Linked DNA regions of Homo sapiens. The protein of the gene in region 2 interacts with the protein of the main gene of each other region in a pairwise test. Each region holds a gene or a part of one and is shown on either strand. Other genes may lie near its edges. The genes, in order: GLRX3, MAP3K3, ZBTB16 and GTF2I.

The links.
Region 1: the proteins of MAP3K3 (region 2) and GLRX3 interact in a two-hybrid assay, tested with the Homo sapiens proteins (2 studies listed by BioGRID and IntAct).
Region 3: the proteins of MAP3K3 (region 2) and ZBTB16 interact in a two-hybrid assay, tested with the Homo sapiens proteins (one large-scale study listed by BioGRID and IntAct).
Region 4: the proteins of MAP3K3 (region 2) and GTF2I interact in a two-hybrid assay, tested with the Homo sapiens proteins (one large-scale study listed by BioGRID and IntAct).

What each region holds. Positions count from the first base shown.
Region 1 is NC_000010.11:130,169,880-130,175,141, reverse strand, and holds part of GLRX3 (glutaredoxin-3), read right to left. Parts: intron 3,559-5,262; coding exon 3,506-3,558; intron 276-3,505; coding exon 236-275; intron 146-235; coding exon 53-145; intron 1-52. UniProt on the Homo sapiens protein: Together with BOLA2, acts as a cytosolic iron-sulfur (Fe-S) cluster assembly factor that facilitates [2Fe-2S] cluster insertion into a subset of cytosolic proteins.
Region 2 is NC_000017.11:63,628,302-63,633,563, forward strand, and holds part of MAP3K3 (mitogen-activated protein kinase kinase kinase 3), read left to right. Parts: intron 1-4,379; coding exon 4,380-4,501; intron 4,502-5,262. UniProt on the Homo sapiens protein: Component of a protein kinase signal transduction cascade. Mediates activation of the NF-kappa-B, AP1 and DDIT3 transcriptional regulators.
Region 3 is NC_000011.10:114,254,488-114,259,027, reverse strand, and holds the end of ZBTB16 (zinc finger and BTB domain-containing protein 16), read right to left. Parts: 3' UTR 2,263-4,540; downstream 1-2,262. UniProt on the Homo sapiens protein: Acts as a transcriptional repressor. Transcriptional repression may be mediated through recruitment of histone deacetylases to target promoters. May play a role in myeloid maturation and in the development and/or maintenance of other differentiated tissues.
Region 4 is NC_000007.14:74,747,433-74,752,694, reverse strand, and holds part of GTF2I (general transcription factor II-I), read right to left. Parts: intron 4,681-5,262; coding exon 4,579-4,680; intron 3,671-4,578; coding exon 3,605-3,670; intron 3,428-3,604; coding exon 3,244-3,427; intron 1,335-3,243; coding exon 1,279-1,334; intron 606-1,278; coding exon 525-605; intron 1-524. UniProt on the Homo sapiens protein: Interacts with the basal transcription machinery by coordinating the formation of a multiprotein complex at the C-FOS promoter, and linking specific signal responsive activator complexes.

The DNA.
Region 1 (5,262 bases), on a different chromosome or scaffold from region 2:
AACATACCAAAATCTTTTCCGTTCTTTAGAACAGCAGAAGAACTGGCCTTACCTTCACAATATCCAATCCTCCCACCAGCTCCCCTTTCACATACAGCTGAGGGTATGTTGGCCAATTTGAGTAAGCTTTTAATCCTTGCCGAACCTAAAGAAACAACAGGAATCCTGAAACCATCCTATCAGGCCCTTAAGATTAAAGCTAAGACAAGGGTGAAACATCAAACACAGAACTTACTTCTTCATCCTCCAATATATCGAATGTTTCATATTCAACACTGCAAAAAAGAGAAGACATTTTAACTGGAAATACAGTTAAATCAAAGTGTAAAACCTCTATGCATTTGATGTTTTTAAAATAATCAAGAAAACCGTTTCACTGCTAACAAAATGTACTACAGACCAATGGAAATGATTTTACTTCTTAATCTGTCTGGTACTACACAGAATTAGTCATTCCAACATATGACTTTATCTGGATTTTTCTCCGGACAATATTGGGTTAGACCAGGGGTGGGCAAACTTCTTCTTAAAGAGTCAGACACTAAACACTTCAGGCTTTACAGGCCAGACAGTCTCTGCTGCAACTGCTCAGTTCTGCTCTCTGCTGCAACTGTCAGCATAAAAGCAGCCACAGACAATGTATAAATGAAGGGATGTGGCTATGTGCCAATATAACTTTATTTACAAAAATGGGCAGCCAGCTGCAACTTGCCAACCCCTGGATCAGACCCACACCCCCATCTGCACGAGCCTTCATTAACTGAACACTCTTACCCACTTCTAATGTCTAACCCACCCCAGGCTGCTGCTTCTTAACCTCCTGGAAGCTGCCCGTGCAGCAGGATGTAGTAGTGCTCGTGGACGGAGGCTGGAGGGCTCAGCAGCCGGATAACAACCACGCTGCCAGCTCCCTCCACCTTAGCAAGAGACATGCTTTCCACACTTAAACTTATTTCAGAGAGGGTGCTGTTTTTAATGTACAAAAGGCCAATGAAAGCTTTGTGGCTTTATACCATACAATGAACATTACTTGTACAAAAAATGAAAAATCACTGCATGAATATCCAACTGTATCCACTCAGAGCGATTTCACCGTTAGGTGGTCAGGTATTAGCAAGCATGTATGCCTAAATCCTTGCAGGGTGCCTGAGGGTACAGGTGCAATTCCCAAAGGTGGCCAAAGAAAATGCTACATGTAAAAAAAACTGGACTTTCCATAAAACTGAAACCATCATAGGGAAATCTTGTTTATTTAGTAAACAAGTTCCCAAGGAAACTGTCTATGGTACAGGGAACAGTCAAAAAAACTAAATGACGGGATAAATCAGAAGCAATTACCAAAAAAGGAATGTTTGAAAGAAGAACAAAAAAAGACCCCAATGTAAACCTAATGCTTTTTAAAAACCCCAATGTAAGTCTTTGTTCAAGTTGAACTAAAGGTGGCAGATCTCTTAATACTGTGATAAAAACAATGAGTTATACAACTATTCATAAAGGATCCAGGAAGCACTGGGCCCAAGTGTATGTATGTGGAGTCCTAACAGCCAGTATACTTCCTAAAAGTTATTCATAAAGGGTACCTTTCAAACCTCAATATACACTTGGTTCTCAACCACTCATGCATGTGTATTTTGGCTACTAAAGGAAAAGATAAGAAATGAGAAAAAGTAAAAAGGAGTTTTCTCCACATACATTTGGCGCCCAGCAAGAGCATGGTCTGCTCGTGTTAAGCGAAGCTGAGGTCCTGGATGGCCTCACTCATCCTAGGGCCAATCACGCTTAGCAAGTCCAGAGCTGGGAGGTCATGCTCTCCCAAAGCATCCTCCTGCTCTCTGCGACAACAGGGTGCTTTCAATACAATGGAGATTAGACAGATATGGGACAGAAAGCCAAGTTACCAAGATGTTCCACCAAAGACACGAGCTGAGTCAGGCCCAGTGTGTCGGCTCAGAAGACACCTGAGGAACCTGGTACTGCTAGAGAGGGATGGACTGTGTGTGTCTCACTGTGGACCCGCAGCAGAGGGTCGACAAAGAAAGGGGAAAATCAAAAATGACCAAAAACAAGCCAGCCCCCACTGTATGGCCCAGGGCAGGGGTGAAGAAAGGAACAGGCTTGAAGTTACAATTACAATAAACTGACTATACTTGCTTCTATAAAATGTCATAGTAATCTAAAGACGACAACCACATCTTTTTTTTGAGACAGAGTCTCACTGTCACCCAGGTTGGAGTGCAGTGGCGTGGTTTCAGCTCACTGAAACCTCCACCTCCTGGGCTCAAGTGATTCTCCAGGCCTCAGCCTCCTGAGTGGCTGGGATTATAGGCGTGCGCCACCGCACCCGGCTAATTTTTGTATTTTTAGTAGAGGCGGGGTTTCACCATGTTCGCCAAGCTGGTCTCGAACTCCTGACCTCAAGTGATCCACTCACCTCAGCCTCCCAAAGTGCTGGGATTACAGGTGTGAGCCACTGTGCCTGGCCCTATATTCTTTTTATGTCCCTGAAATTGTATTCAACCTGTACTATTTAACTATTTTCAATAGATCTTTGAAGTATATCAAAGATTACTTGAAAGTAATTTATTTGAAGCTACAGTTAGAATACATGATTTTTAAAAGATACAATCATGAAATGAGAAATAAACAAAAATATCTGACAAACCCTATAGAACATGTGCTGTATATCTCCAAATAAGTGCTTTTGTTTTTAACCACAAAAATCAATGGCAATGTTCTTACCTGACAGCTTCACCACTGAGCACATCAAAACTAGGAGCACTGCAATTTAACTTGTGCTACCTCTCAGATCCAGGTAATGGACCTTAATATGTGCCCCTCAGCTTTCTGTACTGTTTAGCAACTAGGATATTTGAGAAAAATTAAAAACTACCTATAATATATTCCCCTGAAATATCTTTATGCATGGTGAGGACTCAGTTATACATTTTCCTCTGGGAAAGTAGACAAATAGTTATTCCAAAGGTGGCCTAAAGACCTCCTTTATGTTACTAATAGGTTGACACTGGCCAGAAAATACTATTTTGATCTAAGTTAAGGCATTCACAAAACAATACAGCAAAAAATAAAGAAAGATACAGATATGTATGGATATAGACATTACAACTGAAAAGTATCAGTGGCAGAACTGAAAAGTTGAAATATTTTTTTCTTTTTTTTGAGACAGGGTCTTGCTCTGTCACCCAGGCTGAGTGCAGTGGTGCAATCACGGCTCACTACAGCCTCACCTTCCAAGACTCCAGTGATCCTCCCACCTCAGTCTCTCAAGTAGCTAGGACCATAGATGTATGTGACCATGCCTGGCTAATTTTTTTATTTTTTGTGGCGATGGGGTCTCACTATGTTGTCCAGGCTGGTCTCGAACACCTGGGCTCAAGCAATATTCCTGTCTTAGCCTCCCAAAGTGCTAGGATTATAGACGTGAGCCACTACGCCTGGCCAGGTTGGAATTTTTTTAATACACCATTTGAAAACAACATTTACATACCCAGTACTATTTAGTATTTCCAGAATTTGTTTGCTGAATCCACATTTTGCTTCCTAAATGAAAAAAAATTTGCAAAGATTACAATTTTTGTATGACCCAAGCAGCATGGTTGTACCTAATACTCTTGTCAACCAGCACAGCACTTGTCCAGCATAGCTGCCACTACTTTCACTCAGCTCCCAGAGCTTCTGCTCATCCCCTCTTCAAGTACGAACCCATCTACACATCAACCCAGGCACACGTGACCCACAGACTTCCTTTTCCTTTGGTTTGTAACCACTTGAGATGACATGTGTTCCAACAGTTTATATTCTCTGTGGTCAAAAAGTTCCTCTAAGTGAAACCGAGATTTTCTACAGAGATTTGAGTTCATTGTTTAATTCACTCATGCAAAATGATCTTAACTCACTTAGCCTTTTTGCAATGATTATGACAATTATTTTCCCATTTCCAACTGGATTCTGACTCCCATTTTTCTTTTTATTTTATTTATTTATTTATTTATTTATTTATTTTTTGAGACAGAGTCTCACTCTGTCCCCAGGCTGGAGTGTGATCTCGGCTCACTGCAATGTCCACCTCCCAGGTTCAAGCGATTCTCCTGCCTCAGCCTCCCGAGTAGCTGGGACTATAGGCATGCGCCACCACGCCCAGCAAACTTTTTGTATTTTTAGTAAAGATGGGGTTTCACCATGTTAGCCAGGATGGTCTCGATCTCTTGACCTCGGACCTGCCTTGGCCTCCCAAAGTGCTGGGATTACAGGCATGAGCTACCGCATCCAGCCTCATTTATTTTTACATTACAGAATACTAACACTTTTTTGAGTTTATGAAAATCTTAAGCTTTTTTCATGCCACAGGACTCCAAATTCCAGCAATCTTGTGGAAAAGATATGGTACCATGTCAACATTTTAATAGCCCCAATAACATTGTTTCCAAAATGTATTAATACTTTCTAGGTTTCCAGAAAAAAATAGTTTTGAGAATAAATATCCACTTAAACCATTACCGAGAATAAGAAAAAATGTCACTTTATCATTACTAGGAATTATTAACTTCCTCTATTGTTTCAATACACTGAACCAAAATCAAAGAATTTAGGCCCTAACCTAATGTTTCCAACATGCTGAAATTTATATTAACATTTTCTTTGTTACTGTTACTTTCATTATTACCTAATTATATTAACCAGTTATGTTAACTAATTAGCTTCATTATACTAGTTATGTTAACTTATACACTAGTTATGGCAACCAGAGTCTGCCCTGTGAAGTATTGTGTCCCTTTCCCAATGAGCAAAGTGGTTCTCCATGTCACTTGCCCGGTGCATCTTGCTAACAAGTGAGGCAGTTTCTTTATTCCAACAGCCTCACCTTTCAAAACTTTGGTTTCTTTATCTCTAAAACAGGCCAAAGTCTGTCCAACCCTGCCTACTTCAACAACTGATTGAGAATTAAGTAGAGGTTCAATTGCTATGAAAATTACAAAATATGATATAAATGTGTATGGCTGGTTTCTGGAAATTACCACTCTGATCTCAATCTGAAAGAAAATTAGTTCTGCTCAAACTATCGGTGGAAGTAATCTATCAAACTTGATATTCAAAATGACGCATAATCAATATGTACTTACATCAAAAAGCTGTAAGAACCATCCCATTAAAAATGAGAATTGCTGACCATTTCACTCATTCATCAAACACACAGAGCACACCTGCTACAGCCAGGGTTTGCTCCTCCACTGTCACAAAAGGACG
Region 2 (5,262 bases):
AATATTTATTTTTATACATTTGTATTTATATACTCTGGTTTATATATTGTCTAATTCTGTCTTTTTTTTTTTTTTTGAGACGGAGTTTCGCTCTTGTTGCCCAGGCTGGAGTGCAATGGCACCATCTTGGCTCACCGCAACCTCCGCCTCCCAGCTTGAAGCAGTTCTCCTGCCTCAGCCTCCCGTGTAGATGGGATTACAGGCATGTGCCACCACGCCCAGCTAATTTTGTAGTTTTAGTAGAGACGGGGTTTCTCCATGTTGGTCAGGCTGTTCTCGAACCCCTAACCTCAGGTGATCCACCTGCCTTAGCCTCCCAAAGTGCTGGGATTACAGGCGTGAGCCCCTGGGCCCTGCCAATTCTATCTTTTTTTTCATACAACTTTGTATTTGTGTGTTGTTTATCTTTTTATCCCTAGAGTTTGAACACCTTGAAATATCTTTTAAAACTTTCTAATGTGTAATACAAGATAAGTATTCAGTAAATTGTTGTTAATGATTTATAAAAGTTCAGTAATAAAATTAAGTATTAGGGTAGATTAAATGGCCTCCAGTCTTTTTCCATTGACCTTTTCTCATTGATGATAATAATAGCCAGCATTTTTTTAGCATTACTGTGTTAGGTACCATAAGAAATAATTCGTAGGTTTTCTGTTGCTTTTAACTCCCACAGCAGCTTTGTGAAATGATGCTTTATCTCCATTTTACAGATGAGGAAATTGAGGTTTGGAGAGAATAAATGATTTGCTCAGGGCCTCCTTACCAAATTTTTCTGACTCTGAAGTTCATATTCCTAACTGCTTCAGTCTAAGAAAGTTGTTATTTGTTGTTTTTTTTTTTGAGATGGAGTCTCGCCCTGTCGCCATGCTGGAGTTCAGTAGCGCTATCTCAGCTCACACCAACCTCCGCCTCCTGTGTTCAGGCAATTCTCCTGCCTCAGCCTCCCAAGTAGCTGGGATTACAGGCGCACACCACCACGCGCAGTTAATTTTTTTGTATTTTTAGTAGAGACGGGGTTTCACCATGTTGGCCAGGCTGGTTTCGAACTCCTGACCTCAAGTGATCCACGCATCTTGGCCTCCCAAAGTGCTAGAATTACAGGCGTGAGCCTCTGCGCCCAGCCTGTTATTTGTTTTTAAAAGTTTTGTTTGTTTTTAAAGAATGCCACATTGGAGGAGTGCTGATAATTCAGTTAGTCTCAGTCCATACCACAGAGATAACTGGCTTGTGGCAGCCAAGTGTGCATAGTGATGTTGCTTTTTAGAAGGAAAAAAAACAAAAACAAAACCTCAATCCAGGAAGAAATGCCTAAAAGAGCCACTTGATTTACTTCCTGTCTTTATACATGTCCTCTGAAGTATCAGTTGAAGAACCTGTCTACCTCTAGGAATGTATTTTACTTTGACACAAAATTAGATTCTATAACCCTGATTCACTTGTGTCAGTTGTCCCAGATTTCAGATGACAGTGCCAAACTTTTCCACTAGTGTGTTCTCAGCTCTGGAACTACTAAACAAGTTTGTTCATTAAGTAATGCCAGGAATTGGTTAGCTTCCTGGAAACAGAATTTGTCAACCTGATAAACCAGCTCTTATAATAGCGTCATCTTATACAGAATTAGAAATGATTTCTTCAGTCATACTTGTGGATCTGACTTGAAAAGTGGTGTGTGTATGTGTGTGCCTGTATGTGTATTCACATCCATCTTTGTTCAATATCTGAGTTGAAAGAACTGAAAATTCTCAATACTTAGGGTGGTTAATGTTGTTACTGATAACTCCTTGCATTCCGCTTTTAGGAGTATTGTTGGATGCTCCTCAGAAAACACTTAAACCTAGTCATAATCCTCCTTGTATTGATCCCAATTTATTATTACAGTTGGCCCAATTTTATATATATTTAATAATATCTAAGCCATTTAATATATAAACCTATACATATTATATATAAGCCAATCTTCCTAGCTTAGATGTTATGCTCTAGTTTTTAAAGTTTGGTTGTGAGGATAAAAATCAAAACAAAAAACCAAGTTCCCTTTTTGTTTTTGGGACAGGGTCTCACTGTCGCCCAGGCTGAAGTACAGTGGCATGATCATGGCTCACTGCAGCCTCAACCTCCTGGGCTCAAGTGATCCTTCCACCTAAGCCTCTCAAGTAGCTGAGCCTACAGCGTGCACCACCATGCCCAGCTAATTTTTTGTATTTTTTGTAGAATGTAGTTTTGCCATGTTGCCCAGTCTGGTCTCGAACTCCTGGGCTCAAGCAATCCACCTGCCTCAGCCTCCCAAAGTGCTGGGATTACAGGCATGAGCCACCCTGTCCAGCCAGGTTCCCTTCTTTAAAGAAGCTATAGGGAAATTGTAGAAGGTATAAAATAATTGATGGGATATATATGTGTTAATTTGACAGATGTCTTTTTGTAGATACCCACTTTCTCCTCATTCATTATCCCCTTTACTGCATGCTTTCTATATTACAGCTATGTCACTCTCATACATACTTTTGTATATGTTTTGAAGTGGAATCATATGGGAAGTTATGCTCCTGGTGGTTTTCCTGCAAGTTTTAAATCTAATTTTACTTTCCTGAACAAGCAAAAACCTCTTTATAGGCAACTTTGTCCTTTTCTGTACCTCGTCAGAGGGCATATAGGGCACCAGAGCAGATTTCGTCTAGGAAGAGGGGAGAGGCAAATAAGGTGAGGGGCCAGGCACGGTGGCTTATGTCTGTAATCCCAGCATTTTGGGAGGCTAAGGAGGGAGGATCGCTTGAGCTCAGGTGTTTGAAATCAGCCTGGGCAACATGGTGAAACCCTCGCTCAATAAAAAATACAAAAATTAGCAGGGCATGGTGGTGTGCACCTGTAGTCCCAGCTACTCTGGAGGCTGAGGTGGAGGATTGTTTGAGCCTGGGGGTGGAGGAGGCTGCAGTGAGCTGTGATTGCACCACTGCACTCTAGCCTGGGCAACAGAGTGAAACCCTGTTTCAGTCAGTCAGTCAATCAGTTAATCAGTAGTGGGAGAAGAGACTTGAGCAGTTTTACTTCCTACATTTCATGCTGTTCGTTTCTTTCCACAGGGTATTAGAATATTTCCAAGGGACAGTGATAAAGGGTAGAAGATAGGCACTCTCTTTGGGTGGAATCTTTTGTATTTGCTTCTTTTAAGGTGTGCCCCAAGTCCCCAAATGGCTCAGTTGTCACCAAAGCAAGTGTAACAACTCATCCCTCATGTTCCCTTCACGATCAACAGATTTATTCATTTTCAATCTCCAAATGCTATTTGAATGGGCAAAGATCTCTTAAAGGACCTGGGAAAAATTTGTACAACATGGAATTGGACTGGTTTGTGTTCTGGGTTTTGGCCAGTTGTTTTCAATGTATGAGAACTCTAGTACTCCATGCTATTTCAAGAAAAGGGGATTAAAAGTAATGCCAGTAAGGTGGAGACAATGCATTGCTTGGTCAGCTTAGGGAGGAAAAACAATAGAACTACCCTTTGACTTCCCCATGGGAAGTAGTAGGCCTATAAACTTGTAAAGAGTTGTGGGGGTTGCTGGTGGTGGCGGCATTCAAATGCTAGGCTTGTAAAACAACTTCTGTTCAAAGCAGTTACCTGAGGCCCTTATTTGGTACCTTTTAAAGTGTGCTCTCCTCCTTATGATGCTTTAAGAATAAGTCTGGGACTGACACTGTGCCATAATCCTCTCTCTATGGATTCATCTTTTCATTCAGTACCATATTACATTGTACTGTGTTCTTCACTTCAATTTTTCATCTATTTTTCCTGGTTAAGTTTCTCTGGCACTGGACCAACTGCCCTGTTTGAGCGTGTCCCTTCCCTGCAATGAATTGGTAAATATTGCTGCAGGAAATCTGATTGGAGGGCTATTAAGAAACCATTAAAGGCCAGGCATGGTGGCCCACACCTGTATGTAATCTTAGCACTTTGGGAGGCCGAGGCAGGAGGATCACTGGAGTCCAGGAGTTGGAGACCAGCCTGGGCAACATGGGGAGACCCCGTCTCTACAAAAAATAAAAAAATCATCCAGGCATGGTGGTGCATGCCTGTGTTCCCAGCTACTCAGGAGGCTGATGTGGGAAGGTCACTTGAGCCCCAGAGTTGGAGGCTGCAGTGAGCTATGATCACGCCACTGCACTCCAGCCTGAGTGACAGAGCAAGACCTTGTCTCGAAGAAAAAAAAGAATCCATTAAAATTCAAATTGCCATAGTCTGACCTTTTGGGCTGCATCTGATTATAGTTACAGGGTCTGTCATTTTACCTGGGCAGAACTCCCTGAGTATTAGTTATACAGTTTGTGAAAGAGCTTTGCTGGTCTGTATTTAAGTGTCTTAGTCCATGTGCTCTCTTTCATTGCAGACGAACAGGAGGCATTGAACTCAATCATGAACGATCTGGTGGCCCTCCAGATGAACCGACGTCACCGGATGCCTGGATATGAGACCATGAAGAACAAAGACACAGGTCACTCAAATAGGCAGGTGTGTGTGACCCTGGCAGAGCTAAGTGAGATTTGTTGGGGAGGGGTTTTCAAATGGGAAATATACGAAAAGCCAAGGAGACTACATTACCAGGGTTGAATGCTTTTGACCCCTTCCTTTCACAGTCTGTTAAATGGGAAGTAATACATACCAACCAGGTATGGTTAAATGGTAAGTGATATTGGGAGGCCGAGGCAGGCGGATCACCTGAAGTCAGTAGTTTGAGACCAGCCTGGCCAACATGGTGAAACCCTGTCCCTACTAAAAAACACAAAATTAGCCAGGTGTGGTGGTCCATGCCTGTAGTCCCAGCTACTCAGGAAGCTGAGACAGGAGAATCGCTTGAACCTGGAAGGCAAAGGCTGCAGTGAGCCGAGATAGCACCACTGCACTCCAGCCTGGGCAAGACAGAGTGAAACTCTGTCTCAAAAAAAAAAAAAAAGTTATATATGCCATGCAGTTATGGATCTATGATTTGGAGTCTTAAAGCCTTGTGTAAGCATTTCATCTGTTATGGGGACAGTATTCATATTCGTTTTTCCCCTTTACTGATATTTGGCAAATATTTAATTCAGATTCATGATCCCTAAGTCAGAAGGTTTTTAGCTACCTTACAGTATATAGTCAGGAAAAACTAATTAATTTGGTATTAGCTTATGTAAAATATAATTAAGAAGGTAAATTTATTAATTAAAATGTCACCTAGTATATTCTGAAGGCAATAATGAGTGATTTTGTTATTACTGTTTACAGTTATTTTA
Region 3 (4,540 bases), on a different chromosome or scaffold from region 2:
AGACTCTATGCCTAATTTAGCTTCAGGGGTCCAGGGAAGGCTTCCTGAGAGAAGGTTTGAGCTGAAAAGTGAAAAAGGAGAAGTTGAGAGAGCCAGACAGAAGGGGTGTGTGTGTTTGCGTAGCTCTCAGAAGAGGAAACAGCACACGCACAGGCCCACAGGGGAATGGAGCTCGGTGTGGCCCAGAACACCCGTGGTCCCATCGGCTGGAGCAGAGTAGGGGTTGGCCGAGGGGCTCAAGAGTGATCTTAAGACGAAGTTGGGTGCTGAGCAGGGGCTCTGTCACTCAGGGTGTCTTGGAACTTTGTTAAGGAGTTTGAATTCCATCCTCAGAGTACTGAGGAGTCACCAGGGACTCTCATCTAGGGAGCGACATGATGCTATTTGCATTTTTGGAAAATCGCTCTGGGCAGCAAGCAAAGCAGAGGATGGAAGTGACAGAGGGTCTGGGCTGAAGCAGGGCACTGAGGCCAGTCATCTTCAGATCCCCAATCCCCTCCCTTCCTGGTGCCAGGGGCGTGAGGGGCTCCCACATGGGAAGGCCTGGCCGTGCTGAGTGGAGGGAGGCGGCCTTGGCCTTGGCTTCCCTTATGCCTCTTCTCACGGGCTGCAACTTGCCTGAGTCTTCAGCAAACCTCTGCTGGCGCCGGGCCTCAGCTCTCCACTTTGGTCAGGAGAGGAGTTCCTCAGAGCGACTGGGAGGAGAGCTGCTAAGGCTGAAATGACCCAAACGCCTCCTTGAACCCAGCCAGGACTACAGGGCATGCGGGGAGCTCCCGCTTAAGGTCCCTGGAGAACACCCTGCAGCCCCACGGCGGCATCCTCCCAGCCCCTGCCTCGGTGCCTGTCCCCTCTTCTGACCCCAGCAATGTGCCCTCCTGGTGAGTGTGTTCTGGAGGAGGCTGCCCACAATTGCCAGGGTTGGGGCAGAGGGCAGTGGCAGCCGGGGCTGGCAGGGGGCGGCAGTGGGGCCGCCTGCCCCAGGCAGGGAGGAGAGGGGTTGAGTCAGGCCACGGAGGGAGCATTCTCAGGCTGGCCTGGCCAGGGCCCCTTTCTCTCCATGAGATCATATCTGGGTCAAAGAGCATGTAAAGCTGGCAGAGCTGGCGGTCACACAAAGCCCATTCAGCCCAGCCCCTATTCACTCACCTCCTCTCCCCCAGCGCCCGCGCCGCCGCGACCCCAGCACAGCGCCTAAGCCCCAGCTTTGATGTCCAAGAACAGAAAACGGCGATTAAATGTTGTTTTAAAGAGGGAGTGCTCACTGCCCTCCCATCTGTCAAGAGAAAGCTGAGGCCTGAGGGAGGGGAGGGGAGCTGGGGGAGGGGCGAGGAGGCTGTGTGTGTGTGTCTGTGTGTGTGTGTCGGGGAGTTGGAGTAGAGTGTGGGGGTGAGGAAATAGGCAGGGGCCCAAGAAAAGCCAGGATCAGGACGGCTTGGGGGAATGGTGGCAACTGCTCAAAATCAAAACACAGAATTTGGTTAAGGACTGGTTTCCCAGATGAGAAATATGTGGAGAGGGAAAATAAGGTGGGACAGAGAAACAAAAGCAAAAAGAAAGGAGAAAAGACCACAGATGAGGAAGAGAGGGGAGGAGTGGAAAGGAGAGAAAAAAGATTGGGAGAGAGGAAAAAGATGAGGGGCAGGAGGGGTCAAGAAAGCACAGCAGACGGCAAAGAGGGAGAGGAGAAAGCAAAGACAGAGAAGCAACTTCTAGGGGCTGGAGGCCCCCAGGCTGCACCTGTTCCTCCTCCTGGGAAGATTGTCCGGTGGTAGGGGTAGCTCCAGGCGGTTTCTGCTCAGCAACCCCAGGGTCAGACAGACCCGGGTCTTGGCCCCAGGAGAACAGGGCTGAAAGGTAACCCTCCCAGTGCCACCCCTGGCAGGCCAGGCCTTGTTTGGCTCCCCAGGTGGGTGGCGGTGGCGCGTGGGGTGATGGCTCCCTGCGACTCCTGGTGATGCTGGAGGCCAGGCCTGATGCTCGGTGTGGGTTTACCCTACCGGAGTGACCCAGCACGACAATCATGGCTGTGTCCCCTGGGTCTTGAGGAGGAGAGGGGTTATTTTGGTCAGAGACAGGCAGTGAGGACGGCCTCAGGCAGAGGTGCTGAAGCACCACGTCTAGGATTGAGTGGCTTTGGTTTTACAGCTAAAGATAGGGCGATGCTTCTATCCCCGATAAGAGGAACGGGGAAAGGGCCAGAGAAGAGGGCTTGGCCCAGACACAGGGAGATGAGACAGGGAGGGAATCGTACCCATTGAGTGTTGTGGAAATCCTTTATTCCGTCCATGACAATGCAGAGCTTGCACGGCCACCTCCCACCCATCCCCTCCCCTGCACAAGGCCACCTGCTCCAATCTCCTTTCTTAACAGCTCTTGGCTGCTACAGACGCAGGCAGGGACCTTTGATTGTGTGGAAGCTTCTTGTTGAGAAATTTCTGAAGCTTGCTTAGCCACTAAGGAGTCAGTTGAAAATGTCTCTCTAAAGACTAAAGAAGACGTGAGACCCCTGCTTTGAGAACTCTGGAGTAAAGGAACCTGGCCTGGTATCAGGAGAGGTGGATGGAGTTCTGACTGCTGCTCACCAGCCGTGCAATCCTGAGCAAGTTATCCTAACACAGCCACGGATTCCGACTCAGCGGCCCGCTAGCATGGTAGCCCCAGGGCGGCCAGGGTTTGTCTGTTTGTCCTTTGCTGTAATTCCCAGCGCCGACAACAGTAACTGGTACATGGTGGTCTTGCTGAATAAGTGAACAAGTGCCTACCTAGCACATTGTACCAAGGATCATACGATATTAACGTATTTAACATTTTTTAACTAAAAAGTATTAGAAAAATGTTATTCAGTGCATCTGTGCCTTGTAAATGTGGCATAAAAGTGACACATAGATAAGTCTAAATATGTGTAATACAGAGCTTTCTTTTTCCCAGTCCCCACACAAAAATCTTAATTCCTCTACCATGTTCCCCACACAAGAAAAGGCAAAAAAAACAAAAAAAAAAAACAAAACAAAACCAAGTACTTCAATAAAAAGGTGGGACGCTTCAAGCGAGAGACAACTGAATTAACTTTATTCTCTTCTAACTGCAGATTCAAGGTATACAACTGAACATTGCTATTTTTCTTATGAGACTTATAAATAAAAATACAAAAAATGTTCACTACAAAAAAATCTACTGTTAGTAGGATGTAAAAAATATTCTCTTTGCTATAGAAGGCACAAACTTCACTTAGTGACACATGGAGAGAGAAAAAAACCTGCAGCAGTAAATTCATTTTTTCTTTTTTTTTCCTTTTTTTTTTTTTTTAAATCTTGTCAGAAACACTGAAATTACAAAGAAACGCGTCAATCTACACGAAACGAAGGCAGATGCGGAAAGCTGCAACCAGGACTGCACAACTTCGAGTGAAACTGCTTCGGAACTAGAACAGATAAGGAGCGGCAAGCACAACTCGGGGAAGTGGGCTGGGGAGGGGGCAGCAGGAGGCAGGAGAGAGGGAGAGAGAATGGAGTGGACAGAAATGAGACGGGGAGCCAGAGGGAGGAGGGGAGGGCGGGAGAGGGAGATGGAGAGGGCAAGGGTGAGAGGTGGGGAGGAGAGAAAGAGAGAAAGAGATTGATTTGTACAAAAAAGTAACCAGTAAAATTGAAGAAACAAAATTGGGCAACCTCCTAAAATTAGGCTAAGAGGAGGTGCTGAGGTAGACATTAACTAGAACATTGATGAATTAAAAACACTATTCTGTAATACAGAGCAATCCGACTGGCACTTGTGCTATCACGACATAAGACAAGCCACAAAAACAAACAAATAACAAAACGAAACATAATACCCAAACCAAAAGGCTTAGTTTTGCTTGGTCCAGCAGGGCAGCAGGGCCCTCAGTGCTATAATTTACATACATATATATATATATTTATCTTTATATATACGGGTTGGATGTCATGGTGCACCACCACGGCTTCTTAACCTTACGAAGATCATGCATAACACTATGTGAACAAATCCTATGATACACACCAGGAGGCTGGTACCCTGTCTGCGAAGTTGGATGCCAAGGGCCCGGGGAGGCCGCAGCTGCTGGCTAACCGGCCTGCAGGGCCTGCACCCCTCTTTCTCCCCACCCTTTTCCCCTGACCCAACCTCTCTGGTTTGTCCTGCACCCCTCTCCTGGCCATCTCTGCCTTTTTCCTCTCCCCATCTGTCCCACCGCGTAGGGTGAGTCTCGCCTTTCATCCTCCCACTGAAATATCCAGGTAAGTGCCACCATTACAGCCAAGCCGGCAGAGGCTCCAGGAAGGAGGAGGTATGATGGGAGGGGGAAAGATGACCACAGGATGGGCCTAGGAAAAGTGAATGAACAGAGTCTCATCTTCTGCTTTTCTGTCTCACATCCTGGTGCGCCCCCAGTTTTCACCCTAGCTCGGCTTGCCGGGAAGCAGGCCCAGAAACTACCCTGACCCTGCCAGCCGTCATGGACAGAGTCGAAAGGCTGCCCCACCTCTGCTCTCTCCCCTATAGGGAGGTAAGCTCAATG
Region 4 (5,262 bases), on a different chromosome or scaffold from region 2:
AAGGCTGGAGTGCACTGGCCCCATCTCGGCTCACTGCGACCTCCACCTCCCGGGTTCAAGCACTTCTCCTGCCTCAGCCTCCCAAGTAGCTGGGATTACAGCCACACACAACCAGGCCTGGCTAATTTTTCTTGTATGTTTAGTAGAGTCAGGGTTTCACCACGTTGGCTAGGCTGGTTTTGAATTCCTGACCTCAAGCGATCCTCCTGCCTCAGCCTCCCAAAGTGCTGGGATTACAGGCGTGAGCCACCGTGCCCGGTCTCATATAGACTTTTTTTAAGGAACAGACTAGCCATTTGGGTGGTTAACAGGATTTAGCTCATGCCAAGTGCCAAAACTTGCCGTTGCTGTTTGGAGAGCAACTGTATTTGGAAGGCAACTGCTGTAGGAGTCTGGGAGGAGCACCAGGCAACGTGTAATGTATCCGAGTCCCCGGATGAGCTGAGCAAACCTCTCTAGTTGGGAAAGTCCAAGAGGCCCTGAAGAGACCCCCAAAAACTCTGATGGAAGCAGAGAACTCATACCTGGAATTGTCACCTGAATGATGTTAAGGTCTTCAACACCTGATGCAGTAGTATTAACATTGGGTGATGAATTTATTTTTCCTGAAAATATACATTTAAAATCAGAATTTGTAGAAAACACGGTCAACATCTCTAATAATCATGCTGTCTGAGACTGTTTTATCTCAGTCCTGTTCAAGGTTCTTTCTTTCCATGGTAGATCATTTCAAGAAGACATGATGCCCCCTGAAGGGCTGCCTTTCACTGTTTTTCTCTTCCTGGGGGTACTTAGGAGATCATCACACACTCACAGAGCCACCCAATTATTAAATAACTAAAAATTGTGAAATAGCCTGAACTACAACTTTGAATGGGTTTTCTTTTTTCTTTTTGAGATGAGTCTTGCTCTGTTGTCCAGGCTGGAGTGCAGTGGTGCGATCTCGGCTCACTGCAACTTCCGCCTCCCGGGTTCAAGTGATTCTGCTGTCTCAGCCTCCTGAGTAGCTGGGATTATAGGCGCCTGCCACCACGCCTGGCTAATTTTTTATATTTTTAGTAGAGACAGGGTTTTGCCGTGTTGGCCAGGCTGGTCTCAAACTCCTGACCTCAGGTGATCCACCCACCTCAGCCTCCCAAAGTGCTGGGATTACAGGCGTGAACCACCATGCCTGGCCTCAATGGCTATTCTTTAAACAATGTTTGTAAACCACAGCTGCACAATGCATGCCTAAGAGCGTGTGTTCTATAGCAATGAAAATACAGAAAATACACTCACTGGGAGGGCTCTTAGAGGAGGTGCTCTCCTTAATCGCCGTCTCAAACATTTCGGGCCTATAGACAAAAGAGAAAAAAAATGTGCTGATCAAACAGTAAAACTCTAACATTAAAATTTAAACAACTCAAAGATTTACAAACCAGTAACTCTGTAAAGTCTAAATTCAATTCTTAGTCATGAAGAACAGAAATCACATGCTTATCTAAAGAACCACAGCCAAAAAGACAAACCACAATTGTAAATTTAACATCCATTGCTGCCTCTCATTGGCTGCCCTTCCCCTACACTGGTTTTATTGGCATCTTCTTTCCAAGGTTAGAATGTATCCTGAAAAGAATCAGCGCCAGAATTGAGGATGCAAAGAGAAAACGCCCCACAAACGCAGCATGGAAACACAAGATGGGCTGTGAAAACAGGAGCACTTGAGGCTCTCACTCCGGAAGCAGAAGCAGAGGGCTTAGAGGCTGCCAAACCTCTGCAGACCTGGCCAAAAGCATAAAAGGTGGCCATTGGCCGGGCGCGGTGGCTCACGCCTGTAATCCCAGCACTTTGGGAGGCCGAGGCAGGCGGATCATGAGGTCAGGGGTTTGAGACTAGCCTGACCAACATGGTGAAACCCCTTCTCTACTAAAAATACAAAAATTAGCTGGGCATGGTGGCACATGCCTGTAATCCCAGCTACTTTGGAGGCTGAGGCAGGAGAATCGCTTGAACCCAGGAGGCGGAATTTGCAGTAAGCCGATATCACACACCACTGCACTCCAGTCTTGGGTACAGAGCGAGATTCTGTCTCACAAAAAAAAAAAAAAAAAAAAAAAAAAAAGTGGCCAGCTTTGCTTGAGAGCATCCCTGGGTGACTCAAAATTAAGCCTGACACCAAGCAAATGAAACCTAAAATTCATTTCAATTGATTTCAAATAATTCATGTGCATTAGCATGTACTATAAAATTCCAATTATTCTTATTTCTTTTTTTAATTTTTTTTGAGACAGAGTCTTACTCTGTCATCCAGGCTGGAGTGCAATGGCACGATCTCCTCCGCCTCCTGGGTTCAAGTGATTCTCCTGTCTCAGCCTCCCTGAGTAGCTGAGATTATAGGTGCCAGCTACCACCCCTGGCTATTTTTTTTTTTTTTTTTTGTATTTTAAGTAGAGATGGGGCTTCACCATGTTGGCCAGGCTGGTCTCGAACTCCTGACCTCAAGTGATCTGCCTGCCTTAGCCTCCCACAGTGCTGGGATTTATGGCCGCACCCGGCCCATTCCTATCTATTTCAATTATGTTAGCCTAATCCACAGATGTTCAAGCAAACAGGAGAAATTGAAAATATTCTATTAAGTTGGAGAAATAAAAGGACTTGAAAAACTAAACAGCTGCTCAGATTCCAGCAGCATCAAATAGTAACAACATAGCTGTGTAGATTTAGCAACCAAAAGTCGTTATCTCTCTAGTATGGTGGAGTCCTCCTTCCCTTCTACCAGCAGCATAAGGAAAATTTCTTCTTCTTTTTTTTTTTTTTTTTTGTTTTTGAGATGGAGTTTTGCTCTTGCTGCCCAGGCTGGAGTGCAGTGGCACGATCTTGGCTCATTGCAACCTCTGCCTGCTGGGTTCAAGTGATTCTCCTGCCTCAGTCTCCCAAGTAGCTGGGATTACAGGCACGTGCCACCACGCCCAGCTAATTTTTGTACTTTTAGTAGAGATGGGTTTCATCATGTTGGCCAGGTTGGTCTTGAACTTCTGACCTCAGGTAATCCACCTGCTTTGGCCTCCCAAAGTGCTGGGATTACAGGTGTGAGCCATCGCACCTGGCCAGAAGTTTTAAACATATACAAGAGTGCAGCTTAAAAAGCAGTTTTTCTGACTCCAGAGCTAATTCAGCCCTGCCACAAACACAAACCCACATACCCATCTCCCAGTGTCAAACACAATCAACTCATGCTAATCCCACTTCATCCAGTTTCCTTACTTTTTAATGATGAACTTAATTTTGGCTTTGTTTCTGAGTATCTTCTCCAGCCTCGGAATGCCAAAAGTCGATGGTCTTCGGAATGGCACACCCTCAGGTAAGCCTTCCACATAAAAGTCTTCCGGGAAAGACTCAAATAACGCGAACGGCACCTTCACAGCTTGTTTAAGGCCAAGAGCTTCCCCTGCAAAACAGCCGCGTACACGAAACAGAACATGGGCGAAATGACGCCATTCAATCCCGAAAAACCCACACGTTGCCAATGACAGGGATACTCCAACGCTCAGTATCCCACTCTGCTCCCTCCTACTCCCATGAAGGCACCCTGCGTGGCAGTAAGAAGGTTTCAAAATAGACTTACCACATTTCTCATTGAAGAGATTTTCAACTTTCTGTTTTAGGTCCGTGATTTTGGCATTCCAGGCCTCTGCATATAAAACATAAGAGAGTTAAATTGCAATACTTATCACAGTACTTATCAATACACATTCACAGGCAGGAGTGTTTCATCTTATTTGTGCATCTTATTTTTTTTTTGTTGAGACAGAGTTTCGCTCTTGTTACCCAGGCTGGAGGGCAATGGTGCGATCTCTGCTCACTGCAACCTCCACCTCCTGAGTTCAAGCAGTTCTCCTGCCTCAGCCTCCTGAGTAGCTGGGATTACAGGCATGCGCCACCATGCCTGGCTAATTTTGTATTTTTGGTAGACACGGGGTTTCTCCATGTTGGTCAGGCTGGTCTCGAACTCCCAACCTCAGGTGATCCGCCCACCTCGGCCTCCCAAAGTGTTGGGATTACAGGCGTGAGCCACTGCGCCTGGCCTTATTTGTGCATCTTTAAGAAGAAATAAAAAATGCATAATCTTTTACCATGATATGACTTGACAACTACTCCCATCCTGATACATAAGCAAACTGTTTTAGTACATTGCTTTTATGTTGACTACAAATAAGTGAACAAATGCTAAAATAAAGAAAAAACAAATGAAAACCCCCAAAATGCCCCCACAAATTATAGTCTCTACTACATGCGAGGTATGGTTCTAAGTACTTTAAATGACAGTATTTATAATCCTCACCATAACCTCATGAGAAAGAAAGTAATGTTATTACCATTTTGCACAAAGGGAAACTGAGGCAGGGTGTATTCGCCTGCCCAAGTGGCATCGGATTTGAACTCAGATCTGAACTCAGGCAGCCTGGCTCTACGGGCTATTCCTTTAACCTTTGATATATACTGACTCACCAATAGGAACAATTCACCTGGTAAAATGAAACATAATGAACGTATTCTATTTAAAACTATGAAAGAAAGAAAAATAAAACGCTTACTTACCAAAGGAAAACTCTCTCCCTCGTGGCTTGAAGGGAACGTTAGAACCGTTAGTCTGGGTCGGGGTTCGAACAGCTGAGGTTTGAGGATTGTTGTTATTAGGGCCTAAAAGACAGAAAAAATAATGATAATCAACACACATTTAATGACGTAAGTGTCTCTAGGTTACAATCTTCAAGTCCAGCCTGTGCCAGAAAACAAAGCTAGGTTCAAATTGAAATGGGTATTCTTGTCATTCCGGCGAGTTCCACAGAAACCATTTTTCTATTTCTACAGAAACCCATTTTTCTTCTCTTCTTCTTCTTCTTCTTTTTTTTTTTTTTTTTTGAGACAAAGTTTCGCTCTTGTTGCCCAGGCTGGAGTGCAATGGCGCAATCTCGGCTCACCACAACCTCTGCCTCCTGGTTTCAAGCGATTGTCTTGCCTCAGCCTCCTGAGTAGCTGGGATTACAGGCATGCGCCACCAGGCCCAGATAATTTTGTATTTTCAGTAGAGATGGGGTTTCTCCATGTTGGTCAGGCTGGTCTCGATCTCCCAACCTCAGGTGATCCGCCTGCCTCGGCCTCCCAAAGTGCTGGGATTACAGGCGTGAGCCTCCACGCCTGGCCCTAATTTTGTATTCTTAAAGCAGGCCTCCCAGGCCCCGTGAACTTGGCTCTGCCCTTTAGGAAAGGCTGGCATCTTGT